2 separate regions of the Homo sapiens genome follow, and region 2 is linked to region 1. A link means that fine-mapping ties the variant in region 1 to the expression of a gene that starts in the linked region. Tissue or cell type: visceral fat. Region 1 holds a variant in brackets; the other region holds the start of a gene. All regions are shown on one strand. Distances are from middle to middle.

What was found. PIP is the estimated chance that this variant, and not a neighbour inherited with it, causes the effect.
Region 2: it holds the start of LINC01480, and the variant in region 1 is fine-mapped to the expression of LINC01480 in visceral fat (GTEx, PIP 0.98).

What each region holds. Positions count from the first base shown.
Region 1 is chr19:41,709,329-41,717,429 of GRCh38, reverse strand. CEACAM5 (CEA cell adhesion molecule 5) reads right to left here. Exons shown (of 10, transcript NM_004363.6): 2 at 7,391-7,750; 3 at 2,181-2,459; 4 at 1,526-1,780. Among named protein-coding and RNA genes, the nearest start is that of CEACAM5, 4.8 kb to the right of the region's middle. The variant T/C (reference allele first, on the strand shown) is at 4,554.
Region 2 is chr19:41,532,021-41,540,115 of GRCh38, reverse strand. It overlaps LINC01480 (long intergenic non-protein coding RNA 1480), which reads right to left and starts at 4,618. Exons shown (of 3, transcript NR_110724.1): 1 at 4,515-4,618; 2 at 4,333-4,402; 3 at 3,212-3,515.

The sequences.
Region 1 (8,101 bases):
GCCCTGTGTGGCACCTGTGATTCCTCCACGGGCATCTATCAATCAGAGTTGGCATCTCCCACCTCTCAGCCCAACTGAGTCCTTAAAAGCTCATGGCAGGTGTGTGTGCGTCACAAGACAGATGCACAATGATCTGAGGGCTCAGAGACCATGAGGCTGGCTGTTTTGTGTGGGAGAAGCACAGACTTTCTCAAGTGTGAATTGGGCAGTAGCATTGGGTTGTGGACAGACACAGGGCTGGGGGTCACAGCCCCCAGCACTTCTGGTCCTTTCCTGACTGGCTGGCTGCCTGGCCCATTGGGGTCCTCACCTGGAATTTGAAGGAGCTGCGTTTCTTCCAGCTGCACAGTCCCACACCACCCAGCCAAGTTGTGTTTGCTCTGAGGCTTTGCTATTTAAGGACATCCTAGAGATAGGTGATGATGGAGATGGATGTTTGAGCAGAAATAGTGCAGGAGACTAGGAGCATGTCTAGAGGTGACAAGTCAGGGATCAGACTGTGGGCCATAGATGGGGCAGCTCTGCCCAGGAGTTTGATGGGAACAGAGTTTCATTTTGGGAGGAAGAAAAGAGTCCTGTGGGTAGATGGTGGTGATGGAAGCAGAACAAGGGGAATATATTTAATACCACTGAACTGCATGTGTAGAAAAGTTAAGATGGTAAGTTTGTGTTAGATATGTACTGTTACCATCTGTATAAACACACGATTTTTGACACTGCCATTCCCTGCCGTGCAGAGCCCCTGTGGTGAATCTCCTGATTTCTCCAAGTGTGGGTCACTTGCTGTCCCCTGTGCTGTGTCCCATGTGCTGTGCCCACAGCCTCATATAGCTGGTGACATCAGAGCCAGGACGCAGCTCAGGAGTCTGCCCTGAGGCTCCCTCTCTTTCCATTTTCCTGCAGCCTGACTGGGACGAAGGGAAGCTTTGGTGTTGATTGGCAGCTTGATTTAGCCGAATTCAGGACAGACCACCCGGGCTCCTTCTCCACACACCTCGTTCCCACCTAGGTGGAGTCAGGCAAGGCCAGTCACCCAGGGGAGCCCAGAGCAGAGCAGGGAGCAGTCTGAGCTGTGTCTCCCTCACCCAAGGGGCTTCCTTCTCTCATTTGGGAAAAAAGTATGAGCTTGTTTCAAAGCCTTGAATGTTGCTTGTAGCTCATGGAGTAGGCAAAAGAACACAAAGAGGTGACAGAAAGGGACACATTGGTGACAGAGAGAAGCAACTTGACCTTGAGAACCCTTGCTCCTTCCCGCTCTGTGAAGCTTCCTCCACTACACAGGGCTGTGGGGCTGAGGGAGCCTCCTCCCCACATTCCAAGCTGGACCTGGGGCCCGCCATGAGAAATCAGAACAAGAAGAAAAGAGTCTGTAGAGACATATTGGGGAGGTTCAGTGGGAGAATCTGGGATTTGCTTGTGCCCACTGGACACAGGCTGGGATAGAAAATGTCTTCCTGGCTCTTGTTTGAAAACCAGACAGACTCCACCTCAAAACATGATGTCAGTGCTTCGTGGATCCACTTACCATAGACTGTGATCGTCGTGACTGTGGTCCTATTGAGGCCAGTGTCTGAGTTATGGGCTTGGCACGTATAGGATCCACTATTATTCACAGTGATGTTGGGGATAAAGAGCTCTTGGGTGGATTGCTGGAAAGTCCCATTGACAAACCAAGAGTACTGTGCAGGTGGGTTAGAGGCTGCGTGGCAGGAGAGGTTCAGATTTTCCCCTGATCTGTAAGATGTGTTTAGAGGGGAAATGGTGGGGGCATCCGGGCCATCTGGAGCAAACAAAATAAAGCCACAGGTGATATTGTCAGAGGGAAGTGGAAGTTCCTGGTCTATGGAAGGACCACAGTGTCCCTCTAAGCTGAATCACAATCCTAAAGTCTCAGCCAAACCCCTCTTGTATCTACTGAGCCTGAGTCTGAGATATTCACCTGTTTCTCCCATCATAGGGTGTGGACCCTGAGCCTCCCAGGACAGAAGCAGCCCCTCCCCTCCTATTCTTGGTCAAGACTTGGTCTGCCCAGGTTTTTCTGGGGCAGAAAGTCACAGACAGTCTGGATGTCCAGGGTTGAGGGTCTGTGTACTTGAACCTGAGAGGGACTGAGAAATCCTGCCTCTGGCCCTGTGGATTTGGGCTGGCAGCCTGGGCCAGAGAGGAGCAGATATACTCACAGAGGACATTCAGGATGACTGAATCACTGCGCCTGGCACTCACTGGGTTCTGGGTTTCACATTTGTAGCTTGCTGTGTCATTTCTTGTGACATTGAATAGAGTGAGGGTCCTGTTGCCATTGGACAGCTGCAGCCTGGGACTGACCGGGAGGCTCTGATTGTTTACCCACCACAGGTAGGTTGCGTCCTGAGTCTCAGGTTCACAGGTGAAGGCCACAGCATCCTTGTCCTCCACGGGTTTGGAGTTGTTGCTGGAGATGGAGGGCTTGGGCAGCTCCGCTGTGCAGATAACAGAGAGAAGATTGCCCTGTGTGGCACCTTTGATTCCTCACAGGCATCTTTCAATCAGAGTTGGCACCTTCCACCTCTCAGCCCACCTGAGCCCTTAAAAACCCACGGTGGGTGCATGTGTCACAAGACAGATGCACGATGATCTGAGATCTCAGAGACTGCGAGGCTGCCTGCTCGGTGTGGGGGAAGCACAGACTTTCTCAAGTGTGAATTAAGCAGCAGCATTGGGCTGTGAACAGACACAGGACTGGGGGGGAGGTCACAGCTCCTGGTGCCTCTCCTGGTCCCTCCCTGACCAGTTGACTACTTGGCCCACTGTAGGGTCCTCACCTGGAACATTCAAGTGCTGGGTCCCTTCCACCTTCAGTCCTACTTTGTTTCCCTAGGTATATTTTTTCTGTGGTTTCCCTTTGCAAGGACATCCTAGAAATGGATAGTGATGGGTCTTCCCATTGTCCTTAAACCCTGTACATATTGTGCAGCCTGGCCTGGGACTGGATGTTTCAGTAGAAATAACACAGGGGACACCAGAGGCAAGCCTGGAGGTCAGCTCAGTCGTTAGGCAGTGGAGGCACAAGGTGGGGCAGTTTTTCCCAGGTGTTTGATGATGACTGACTTGAGCCAGAGACCCCTAAAGATAGAGTGGAGTCCAGGGAATGATCTAGAACTTCAGGTGACAGGCAGGAGCTGCCCGGATTTAACAGCAGAACCATATGTATGTTCTTTGTCTTTGGTCTTTGTTTGTTTGTTTGTTTTTTGAGATGGAGTCTTGCTGTGTTGGCCAGGCACGATCTCGGCTCATGGCAACCTCTGCCTCCCGGGTTCAAGCGATTCTCCTGTCTCAGCCTCCCGAGTAGCTGGGACTACAGGCGCCCACCACCACACCCAGCTAAATTTTGTATTTTTAGTAGAGATGGGGTTTCACCATATTGGTCAGGCTGGTCTTGAACTTCTGACCTCAGGTGTTCTGCCCACCTTGGCCTCCCAAAGTGCTGGGATTACAAGCATGAGCCACTGCACCCGGCCTGTCTTTGGTCTTTAATGTCCCTTCTCCCCTTGCAGAGGGCAGGCGAGGATGCTGTGGATCTCTCCATAAATACATGTGGACATTTGCAAATGCAGAACTGACTGGTGGAAAAGGGGGAGCATGAACTGCTGGAAATCTGGCCCTCAAGGACCATGTGTGTTTGACAGTTATGAGACAGAACTTTGAGAAGAAGTTTTGCAATTATTTTCTCCCATTGGACATTATGCTAAATGAAATAAGCCACTCACAGGGCAGATACTGTAGGATTCCACTTATATGAAGTCCCTAGAGTAGTCACACTTGTGGAATCAGAGAGTAGAATGGTGGTTGTCAAAGCCTGGGAACTGGGGGAATGGAGAGTTGTTCATGGGTCTGCAGTTTCAGTTATGCAGGATGAGGAGGTTCTAGGGATCTGCTGTTCAGCTTGGTGCCTATAGTTCATACAGATTGAGTATGTCTTATGTGTAAGGCTTAGGACTAAAAGTGTTTTGGATTTCTGACTGTTTTTGAGTTTTGAATATTTGCAATATACTTACCAGTTTAGCACCCCAAATCTGAAAATACGGAATCCAAAGTGCTCCAGTGAGCCTTTCTTTTTTCTTTTCTTTTCTTTCTTTTTCTTTTTTTTGAGATGGAGTCTCGCTCTGTTGCCAGGCTGGAGTGCAGTGGCACGATCTCAGCTCACTGCAACCTCCACCTCCCGGGTTCAAGCGATTCTCCTGCCTCAGCCTCCAAAGTAGCTGAGACTGTAGGTGCATGCCACCACGCCCAGCTAATTTTTGTATTTTTAGTAGAGACGGGGTTTCACCATGTTGGCCAGGATGGTCTTGATCTCTTGACTTTGTGATCTTCCCGCCTTGGCCTCCCGAAGTGCTGGGATTACAGGCATGAGCCACCGTGCCCGGCCTTCAGTGAGCATTTCTTTTGAGAATCATGTCAGTGGTCAAAAAATGTTGGATTTTGGAGCATTTCAGATTTTGGATTTTAGGATTTGGGATACTCAATCTGTAGTACTATAATTTGCCCTTAAAAATTTGTCAGGAGTTTAGATCTCA[T/C]GTTATTTTCTGACTATAGTTAAAAAAGTGAAAGACATTTGGGGGAAACATTAAATTTTTTCCATAAGTGGAAATTCTTATCAATGGCCTAAAGATCTAAGATCAATTGCTGGAAGTAGTACTTCTTTTAATATTATGCTAAGGTTTAGGTCTGCTCTGAATTCCAAAGTGATCACATTATGCTCAAAGGAAGATGCTGAAAGTGGTTTGAAATCAGTGACTCCCTGAACAGAGAGAGGGATGTGAGACCTGTTAAGAGGACAGAACCGGTCAGAGAGGAACTCTTAGGTGTGTCAATTACATAAAGGGAGAAATGATGCCAAGTTAGGAGAAGCAATGTGTGTGATGTTAGTAAATTTAGAAAGCGCTCCCTGCCCCTAGTTCCTGTGCAGAGTTAGGCAAAAAGAGGAGAAGCCTCAAAACAGGCATGTGAAAGGTTTTCTTCCTCTCCTATCAACCTCAGAAAACACAACTAGAGTTTAAGTTTTTGTAACTGGGTAGAGTCTAAGTGAGACGCCAGTGGCTGGTTCACTTCTCAGTCCAAGGGACTCCACCTTATGACAATGGCATCATCATGAGGACACAGGTGTATGTGGAATGGGCAGCAAACCTATCAGACAGCACCTGCCTGGCCAGCTCCACCTGGGGGAGGTCCCAGGATCCACTGGAGGATGTGAGCCCCACACCAGGATGAAGATGGAGTGGGTAGTGAAGTGAGTGAAATAAGCATGCGGGCTTTGGGGACTGCAGACCTGTCCTTCTGCCTCTGACCCCCTGGTGAGTCAGTGTAGGGAGTGGATGGAGGAGTCGCTCATTCCCGTCCTGCTGCCTGTTCCGTGTGTTGGCCTCATGGAAGTAAAGAGCCCTGGGCAGGAACACAGCGGAAGCTCATTCTCCTGGTGACCTGTTGACATTGGCTTGTGATGGAGCCTGGCAGGGGCTCCATCTGTGCCTTCCCTATTGCCTGTGATTTCTGTGCCTTCCCTATTGCCTGGGAAGTGGGCCAGGACACAGTGTGAGCGGCAAGAAAACAGGACAGCCAGCCTTGTTCAAGGGAGTGTCTGGGGAAGGCCTAAGAGTGGAGGAAGATGTTCAGGGATGGGCATCTCAGCTGGAATGAAGAGGGAGGAAGACGAAGAACATGGAGGAATAGAAGAAAGTCAGAAATGCCCATGGCAATGAGCCATGCGGGGTATAGTGACCTCGGAGACCCCAGGACTAGGAGTCCCTTGGCTGTCCCGACCAGGACCAGGGAGCCTTGAAAACCCTCCCATGGCCAAGGAACCCCAGAGTCACATGAGATAGGGTGGCTTTCGGGACAGGGGGTCAGAGGAATGGTACATGGATCTCAGCCCCTGATGGACACGGAACAGGTGTGGTCAGAACCTCCCAGGATTCTGCATCCAGGATCCAGTCTCTATAGAGGTTATGGATCATTCCTTCACTCATTCCCCCCTTCATGAGAGAGCTACTGAGCAAGCGTGTGTCTCACTTTGGGCCTCTGTTGGCACAGGGTGTGAGTGGGGAGAGAAAGCGAAGTCCTTTCCTTTATCCTTCCGTGGGAGTGACACTGACACATCGGGAAACACAGGATTTGAGGTCATGTGAGGGGGCTGTGGATCTCAGGGAGAGGCCTGGACAATCCCGGCACTGACCCTGACTGTTGAGGTGATCTAGTTCTAGAGTAAAACTGATTATTTCTCCATTTACTTATCACTCTCCAGACCAGAATCTCCGCTTCTGAGCTGTGGATGCCCAAGACAAAAGAACGCAAGCCCATGACTGGTCTCAGATGCAGATGCCTAACAACAAACAGCCCCACCCACCCCCAGTTGAGGAGAGGAGGGGGCTGTGGCTACAGACAGACCTCATGTGACTTCAATCTGACACCTATGGCCTGTGTGACCCTTGTTAGTGACTGTCTCCCTGTGCCTCAATTTCCTTTCAATAAGTAGGATAAGTGCTATTTGGCTGTGAGGTTGTTTGTGAATTAACCTCAAAATATTTACAATTACTTGATCTCAGCTCTGCACAGAGGAGCTGCTCAAATGAACATCATTTATGTTTATTTGCCTCCAAGAGAGAAGGCCCTGGGCCTGATCCCTGGTGGACAAGGAGCTGCCGGGAGCATCTTCTCTCCTCTGTTCCTCTTCCTGGGGACACTGAGCTTCCCATGGAGTCACCTATGTCCCCAGGGCAATGGACTGACACCCTAATAACCTTGTCTATCTATCCTCCCCACATTGAGTCTCAAGTAAAGGACAAGGCTCTGTCCTTGTCCAAATGAGACTCTGGGGACAGGGAACAAGTGTGGCCAGAAAGTCCGATTCTGCATCCAGAATCCAGCTCCAGGAGCCACAGCCCTTGGACAGCTGCTAAGTCCTTGCTTCCAGTTAGCCTTGCCCAGGAGGCCACAACACAGCCCTGGCACAGGCTCCCCTGAGTCACCTGGAACCAGGAGCCCTGGGGCTGAGCTTCTCTGTGAATATCCCAGGGGTCCCTCAGGCCAGGCTCTGATGCAGTTCTCCAGGGTCTTTCTCAGGGTCAGGTTTACGGGGAGGGCACGGGGTGCTTGGCTGAGACTGACCTCCCCCTGCTAAGTCCCCCACATCAGACTGTCCTTCCTCTGCAGTGAGTGTCTGCAGGGTCTGGATGCCGGAAAGGAATTCTGATCTGTTGAAGTTTGTCTCTTCTGTGTGTATCCTGCACTAAATGCCCAAACCCTAACATGGTGCGTAATGCAGAGGGGGCCACAGGCACAGCCCAGGCCTGATAATCCTGTGTGTGGGAAGTAGAACTGACCCCCAACACCCAGAGGTCATGGGGGAATCACTCACGGTATACCCGGAACTGGCCAGTTGCTTCTTCATTCACAAGATCTGACTTTATGACGTGTAGGGTGTAGAATCCTGTGTCATTCTGGATGATGTTCTGGATCAGCAGGGATGCATTGGGGTATATTATCTCTCGACCACTGTATGCGGGCCCTGGGGTAGCTTGTTGAGTTCCTATTACATATCCTATAATTTGACGGTTGCCATCCACTCTTTCACCTTTGTACCAGCTGTAGCCAAAAAGATGCTGGGGCAGATTGTGGACAAGTAGAAGCACCTCCTTCCCCTCTGCGACATTGAACGGCGTGGATTCAATAGTGAGCTTGGCAGTGGTGGGCGGGTTCCAGAAGGTTAGAAGTGAGGCTAGGAGAGAGCAGAGAGCATCGGTCAATATTGGGACCTATGCATTAGGGTGGAAAAATGGGGTCCTGGGTCCTGAGCAGGTCTCTTCATCCCCCAGCCCTGGAGTGAGTGAGTGTGTGTGTGTGTGTGTGTGTGTGTGTGTCCTACTAGGTCAAGGTCAGCAGTGTGTCTCCTATTTCCTTAGCACCTCTGACCTTGGCATTTCCCTGTGTGGAATCTGCTTTTCCAGGGGTCTTCACGGCTCCCTCCCCATTGCCTTCAGGTCCTGCTCACATCAGGGCATTCTTGGGAGATCCCTTCCCTGACACCTCCTCTAGAGACCCTGGGTCTTCCTTTTCTGACCTTTCCCTG
Region 2 (8,095 bases), 180 kb after region 1:
CTCCGCTGATGTGCTCCTCTCGACGTCAAGCCTCCTGTGTGTCTGACTGCTAGGGTCTTGGGGTTTTTATAAGCACAGGATGGGTCTTAGCAGGCCAGGATGATCTTGGGAAAGACAACATTCGGTCAGGAAAACAAAAATGCCTGTTGTCATCTAGGTCCGTGGGGACAAGCCCAGGTGTGGAGCTTTTAGCCAGGGACCACAGCCTCCTGTATCCAACACTTCCCTTCACCTTTTCTATATCATTCAAAGGGATCATGCCCTTCCCATCCCAGCACTTCACTTTCATGTCATTTGCCCCCTCTGAAGAGGTACATCTAACTGCCATTAGAATATGGATGATGACCAGTCTTAGCTGCTTCCTGCTGAAAGGGGGCATTGTTTTGGGGGAAAACGGCAGTCAGATTCCTCCCAGGGGTCTCTATAATAAAAGATCGAGGTGGCTACTTTCAGGAGGTCCTCTAATGTACTATCTGGTCCCAAGTCCCATTTCTGCAACCTCCTCCTGATGTCAGGAGCTGCCTGAGTAATAATTTTATCCTTTAGGATTATCTGTCCCTCGATTGAATTAGGAGATAGAGAGGTGTGATTTACCAAGGCCTCTCTTAGCCTCTCCAGGAAGGCAGTGGGATTTTCATCAAATCCCTGGTTAATTATGGACAACTTAGTATAATTGAGAGGCTTGGTCTTAGACCTACGTAAGCCCTCTATTATGCACACCTGAAAGTGTCTCCTCTTCCAGTCTTCCATCTCATTATTGGGATCCCATTTAGGGTCCTTCACTGGTGCTACTTCTCTTCCAGTTGGATAATATTCGCTCCCTTCCCTGATGCTATAGGTGATGCAAAGCTCATCCCCAAATCTCTCTGCTGCTGGCAGAGCAGCCTGCTTCTCAGTGTCTATCAGGTTCTGACTCAAAAGTAACATAACGTCTCTCCAGGAGAGTTCAAATGTTAGGGTGAAATTCTGGAAAGCTTCTATATATCTATCAGGGTCATCTGAACACTTGCCCAGATCTCCCTTAATTTGCTTTAAGTCTTGTAGGGAAAAGAGGACTTGGACCTTACTGGGCCCAAATTCACTGGGCATCTGTAGGAGGGGCAAGAGTGAGACTGGGCTTGTTTGGGATGAAGATTTCTAGGAGGGGCCAGGTGAGAGGCTGAAGCTGGATACGGAGGTTGGGGTGGACCCAGAGGAGCAGGGCTTGAGGGAGCTGGCACGTCAGCTGGGGGTGCGTCTGGGACTCGTGTCTTTAATTCCCTGGGCTTGACCCTGGCAGCCTTCCCCGAGACAGCAAACAGGAGGGCTGGAACAATCCTACATGTCAGCAAAGGTCTGGATTGCTTTGCAAGGTATAGAAAGCCTGCACATTTGGGGCCTCAGACCATGTGTCCTCACATCCAGAGAAAAGTTCTAATTGCAGGATGGTATTGAAATGAATGGTCCCTTCCTGAAGCCAAGCCAGTCCTTCCTGTAAACCATAATTTGGCCAAACCTATGTGCGGAGGGCTATGAGATGCTTTTCCTCTGGATTCTGAGGGTCAAAACAGTCCCAATGGTTCAGGATACACTCAAGGGGAGTACAAGCTGGGGGTGGTGAGGAGAACTGGCTGCCCATTCTGAAAGACAGGGAATAGAGGTGTTCCTCATTTCCCTTCCTTCTTTTGGCAAAAAGCTCAGGGTGTGATGGGGAGGGAAAGCAAGCATCTTCACTTCACTTTCCACCTCTTACCCCTGCGCCCTGGCAACCTTGGCAGGTGCCGGCCACAGGTACAAATGCGGTATGTACCCATGAAGCAGGGAGAACCTGGAGATTAGGAATTAACTGCCCTCACCTATGTTTCCTTTTCTCCCTGCTGTTGAAAAACTTTGAGTTCCCTGGGCCTTTTTATCCCATGAGGCATGGCCTCCTTCTGTGGGATGGGGTTCAGTCAGCAGGAATTGGTCCTGTCCATTTACATTGTGCCTGTTGCCTGGCTTTGAATTCCTCAGACCTGCTTTCTCTTTCTAGGGCCTCAGCCTGAAGCTTGGAATTGAGTTTGGGACTGAAAAAGCATTTCAGAGGCTGTTTATATCCATTTAGTGCCTCAAATAAGCCCTGCTGAATTTGCAATTATCAGCCAGCAGGGGTCACTCCTCTGTTAACTTCCCTATTAGAAACAGAGCGGTGGGGATTCTCACTTAGAAAAGAAAAAAAGAGAAAAACAGTTAAAGAGGCAAAAAGTGGGGAATGCTGGGGGAAGAACCCCTTGCTTAGTGCAAGTGGGCCCCTCTAATCCTTATAACTTTCCCATCCTTCCCCCAGTTCAGACCAGGTTGAATTCCTTGGCCATGGAAGGAAAGGTTCCATTGATGCAGTGGGTGAGAAGCACTCTGTAGGGTCCTGGCTACCATCGGTTTTCTCACACCCCCCTCATCCCAGGCAGTGGAGGGAGACACTTCTGCGACATTGCTCCCCCTGCCCCTTCATGGCTATTGGGTGTGGCCTTTGCCTGCTGCAGGCATGCCTAGGTGCTGGAGCTGGGAGGGAAAAGGGTAAGGAGAGGTGCCCTGGAAGCCGCTCATGCCTGGGGCTGTCAAGGTGGAGGCATACATGGCACCTCTAGGAAAAATTGGTCTGATTTGCACCTTTGGCGGCTGAGCCAAATGCTCATTTTACTTAGTAACATTGCCTCAGCCTGTAGCAAAACTCTTAACATTATAAAGGAAGAGATAAGATCCATTTCAAATAATGTGTGAGAGAGAAAAGAGATGAAAGGAAAACAGAGTCTTTTACCTGCAGGAAAGGGAGAGAAGTGGCAGAGTTTTGGAAGAAAGGCAGGCCCAACAGTTTCCCATTCACTCACACTCACCTTCCGAGATCCCAGACGAGCCACCAGTTGAAATGGGAAAAGTTTCCTTGTCCCCCTCACAGGAGGTGGAGTGGGGGTGTGGCTTGCTTCTTTAGTACTCCGCTGCTCAAACCTCTAGGGAAGCATACAGACTGGCAAGTTGTGGGGCTACAACCCCATGGCAGCATCTAGGGGTAGATGTTTACAGCTGCTGAAGCCCCAGTGGACATGTGGTACCATGTGCTCTTTTAGTTTTGCCATCTATAGGTGGCTTTGTGGTAACCAGCTCAATTAGACCCATTCCTTAACCCAAAGACAGAGGGCTTTCTGTATCCCGCGGTTGTTACCTAGGTGTACCAGAAAAATCAAATCACACGTGGTCTTGGAGAATGAGTGCAAGGTTTTATTGAGTGGAAGTAGCTCTCAGCAGATGGGGGAGCCAAAAGGGAGAATAGTTTTCCCCTGAAGTCGGGTTATTCAGCGGCCCAGGCTCTCCTCTGGCTGCCCCAGCCAAACTCTATGTCAATCCATTGGTCGGTGGCCTGCCAGAGTGCTGGTGCCTGTTGGTGGATTCCTCTCAGCGTCGAGAGTTTTTCCCTCTCAGGAAAGGGAGAGAAGTGGCAGCCACCCATGTGTTCTTGCACTGATGTGCTCCTCTCGACGTCCAACCTCCTGTGTGTCTGCCTGCTAGGGTCCCAGGGTTTTTTTAGGCACAGGATAGGGCATGGTGGGCCAGGGTGATCTTGGGAAATGCAACATTTGGTCAGGAAAACAAAAATGCCTGTCCTCATCTAGGTCCAGGGGCACAAGCCCAGGTTTGGAGCCCTAGCCAGGGACCCCGGCCTCCTCTACCCATCACTTTCCTTCACCTTTTCTGTATCATTCAAAGGGACCATGCCCTTCCCTTCCCAGCACTTCTCTTCTGTATCAATAGGTGATGTTTTTAAAATTTCCCAACTCTAGTGCAGGCATGGTACTAGACATATACATAGAAATAAAACCACACTTATTCTTCTGGCTGGCAAGACATAGTATTTTTGCCAAATTATGTGTTGTTTTGAAGCATTTTATGTACCCCTGGTCATATAAAAATAAAGCTATTTTGTTCAGTACAAACAGCAGCATTTTCTGGATTAGAAAGTTAATCATCTTAAAAGATCATCACGGATTTTTCCATTGCACTCATCACTAATTGCTTTGGCAAAAAATTTCTTATCTCACGCATGACAAAATCAGCCGCAGTATCTCCTAGTAATTTAATGGTGATGATCTTTATAAAGGAAATAAGCACATCAAGGGAAAACATAATTTTTTTAAAAAAAAGAGTAATAAAACTTTTTAAAAGTCTTTTTTAAAAGACTGCTTTTCTAAAATAGTAAAATAAAACTCCACCAATAAAACCACCAACAAAACAGAAAAGAAAAAATAATGATATGATCGGAGCTATTTGATGAAAGATGGTAAATTAAATTTAAAATGATTAGAAGAGAAAAAGCAATACCTGTCTCCCGTAGGTCTCAGTCCAGGTTCTGCTATGCCTTTCTCCTGGTGAGCCACCTATTTAAGAGTCGCTTAAAGCATATGTTAATCCAACAACAGCAGATTAAAAACCAATGCAATCTGAACTATTTGATCTAAAAACATAAATAAAATTTAAAACAAATAAAAGAGAAAAAGCAGTACCTGTGTCCTGTAGGTCTCAGTCCAAGATCTGCTCTGACTCCCTTGTGGTGAGTTAGCCCTTTAGAAGTCACTTGGGGTGGGGCATATGTTAATTCCACTAACATTGGTTCTGGCCAATGAGTCAGGAAGGTGGTAAATGGCACCTTTTCTTCTTGCTGATTTCTTTCAGTTCCTTTGGAGTCTGGACATTAGTCCTTTGTCAGATGCCTAGTTTGTGACTACTGTTTCCTATACTGTGGGTTGTGTGTTTACCCTGCTGATATTTCTTCTGCCTTGCAGAAGATTTTCGGTTTCATTAGGTCCTATTGATCTTATTCTATTTTTATATTTTTGCGTTTGCTTTTGGGGCATTAGTCATGACTACTTGGCCTAAGCCAATGTCTAGAAAAGCTTTTTGGATGCTATCTTGTAGCATTTTTAGACTTTCAGGTCTTAGATGGAAGTTTTTATATGCTTTGTTAAAGATCAGGTGACTGAAAGTACCGGGCTTTGTTTCTCGGTTCTCTATTCTGTTCCATTGCTCTATGTGCCTATTTTTATACTTCCTGCACCATTTATTGAATAAAGTGTCCTTTCCCCAATTAGTGTTTTTGCATACTTTGTTGAAGATTAGTTGTCTGTAAGCATTTGGCTTTATTTCTGGGTTCTCTATTCTGTTCCATTGCTCTATGTGCCTATTTTTATACTTCCTGCACCATTTATTGAATAAAGTATCCTTTCCCCAATTAATGTTTTTGTGTACTTTGTTGAAGATTAGTTGTCTGTAAGCATTTGGCTTTATTTCTGGGTTCTCTATTCTGTTCTATTGCTCTATGTGCATATTTTATACCAGTATCATGCTATTTTGGTGATTGTAGCCTTGTAGTATAATTTAAAGCCTGCCTTCAGATTTGTTCTTTTTGCAAAGTATTGCTTTGGATATGCGGTCACGTTTTTGGTTTTGTATAAATTTTAGGATTCTTTTTTCTAGTTCTGGGAAGGAGAATGATGATATTTTGATGAGAATTCTACTGCTCTGTAGATGGCTTTGGAGAGTATGGTCACTTTCACAATATTGATTCTACCTATTCATAAGCTTATAATGTGTTCCCATTTGTTTGTGTCAACTGTGATTTCTTTCAGCACTATTTTGTAGTTTTCCTTGTAGGAAACTTACATTAACCTACTTGGTTAAGTATATTTCTAAGTATTTTACTTATTAAAAATTCTCAGGGAAATGCAAAGTAAAACTGAGGTGGGAAATTAAAGAAAAATAAAATTAAAAAGAAAGGGAAATAAGCTTTCTTGTATTAAGCTAACTTGTCCCAGAGGCAGCAACAGGCACAGCCCAGACCCAGGAAAAGTCTTGATAATATTATTTATTGTATTCTGGAGACTCTTCCAGCACTCCTTCAATGTAGGGAGAAGAAAAACAAATTTTCCTTTGTTTTATGGTATGAGTTTATAGATTCTTGTTCTCTTTAACTAGTAACTTCAAGTATTCTGTTTTATCTAAGAAGTATGGCAAAGGTCATGAGAAGCCTGAGCAGGCCTGAACTACAGCTCTCTAGGCACCATAGTGAAGATAAACCAATGCAAGCCTCTTTAGAGCAAAACCTAGATAATAGACATCTGGGTTGCATAGCAACAGTTATGTGCAATCCTGAGTTATGAACCTGTTACAATTTGATTAACTGTCTTTTTCCTGCCTCTGTATCCCTGCTTTCACACCACTGTAAGCTTGCTTCAAGCTGGCCCACCCCCTTTTGTGAAGTGTGTATAAAAGTCAAGTGCTGTCTTTGTTCCAGGCCCTGTCTTTGGACGTGAGTCTGCTGGGCCTGAGAGCACTCAATAAAAGATTCTCCTGTTTTAACCCAAAGCCTCTCTCTCATCCTCCTAAATCCCACAACAAAACCACAATGAGATGCTATCTTAATCTTGCTAGAAGCCCATAATTTAAAAGTCAGAAAACAATAGATGTTGGCATAGATGTGGTCAAAAGGGAGCACTTTGACACTGCTAGTGGGAATTTAAACTAGTCCGACCACTATGGTAAACAGTATGGGGATTCCTTAAAGAACTAAAAGTAGACCATTCATTCCAGCAATCCCATTACTGGCTATCTACCCAAAGGAAAAGAAGTTATTCCATAAAAAAGACACAAGAATATGGATGTTTATAGCAGCCGATTCGCAATTGCAGTGATATGGGACCAACTTAAGTGCCCATCAACGAACGAGTGGATAAAGCAAATGTGGTACACCATGGAATAATACTTGATAATAAAAAGGAACAAAATAATGTCCTTTGCAACAAGTTGGATGGAACTGGAAGCCATTATTCTAAGTGAAGTAACTGAGGAATGGCAAATCAAATATTGAATGTTTTCACTTTTAAATGAGAGTTAAGCTATGAGAATGCAAAGGCATAAGAATGATATAATGGACTTGGGGACTCGGGGAAAGGTTGGGAGGGGGATGAGGAATAAATGATGACATATTGGGTATATTATACACTGCTCAGGAGACAGATGCCTCAAAATCTCAGAAATTACCACTAAGGAACTTTTATCCACATAACCAAAAACCACATATATTCCACACACTATTGAAAGAAACATAAACATTATTTTAAAAAATAAAGCCACTTTTAAAATTAGCAAAATAAAATAAATATGTCTTCAGAGTTTAGATATTGGATCCAAATTAGACAGATCAAATACTGCCTTTACTAAATATTTTCATGTCATTAACAACTTCTAAAACCTTTCAAACAGTTTTTTGACATGTCTTGGAACCATCCATTTCTAGCTAAGGCCTGGGCACCTGTGAAATAGGGCCATGCCCCCCCTTATACTGGGAAGAGTAAGATATTTCAAGACTAAGATGTTTTCTACAGCTCCATCTTTTTCTTTAAGCTCTACATCAAGGACATAATTAAAATTGGTTGTCTCCTAAGTGGTTTACTAAAAATGCATACTTAAGAGTTACCATTATAATTAATATTTGTATCTAAAGCTACTTAAAAATTTTCACACACAAATCTGACTGAACAAGTAAAATATATTTTAAGTCAAAGTTTATAAAAGGACATGAGAACATAGCTTTTATGAAAAAATTAGTTTTGTCAAGTTTAGAGGTTTTCAAATATTTTAAATTCAGGAAATAAAATAACAAAAAGACAAAAGAAAATGGTTGAACAACTTAGAAAAGGTTTGTTAAAATTCATCTTATAAAACAATCTACATGTAAAAAGTGGGCTAAAATTTGAAAGAGATTATTTAGGTTTTCCATAAATTAATCCAGAAGGGGTAGGAAGTCTTAAGAATGAGGAAGGACAGGAGGAAGGGGAGGTCATCCTGACACTGCAGAGGCAGAAGTGCAGCTGAAGGTATGAAGGCTAAGAGGGGAGGGGAGTTTGAGTGCTGCTGCCTGGCTGTCAGAGCAGAGGAGGGTCCTGGGCACCAGACTTGAGGAAGGGATGAAAATGCTGGGCAGACCTGTAGTGGGCCCTTGAGATGGCAGATAGTGGTTTCCAGAGAGAGGGCCATTGTTTTCCAGTGCCCAGCACTGAGCAGAGAGAGTTTTGGGCAGTGTAAAAAA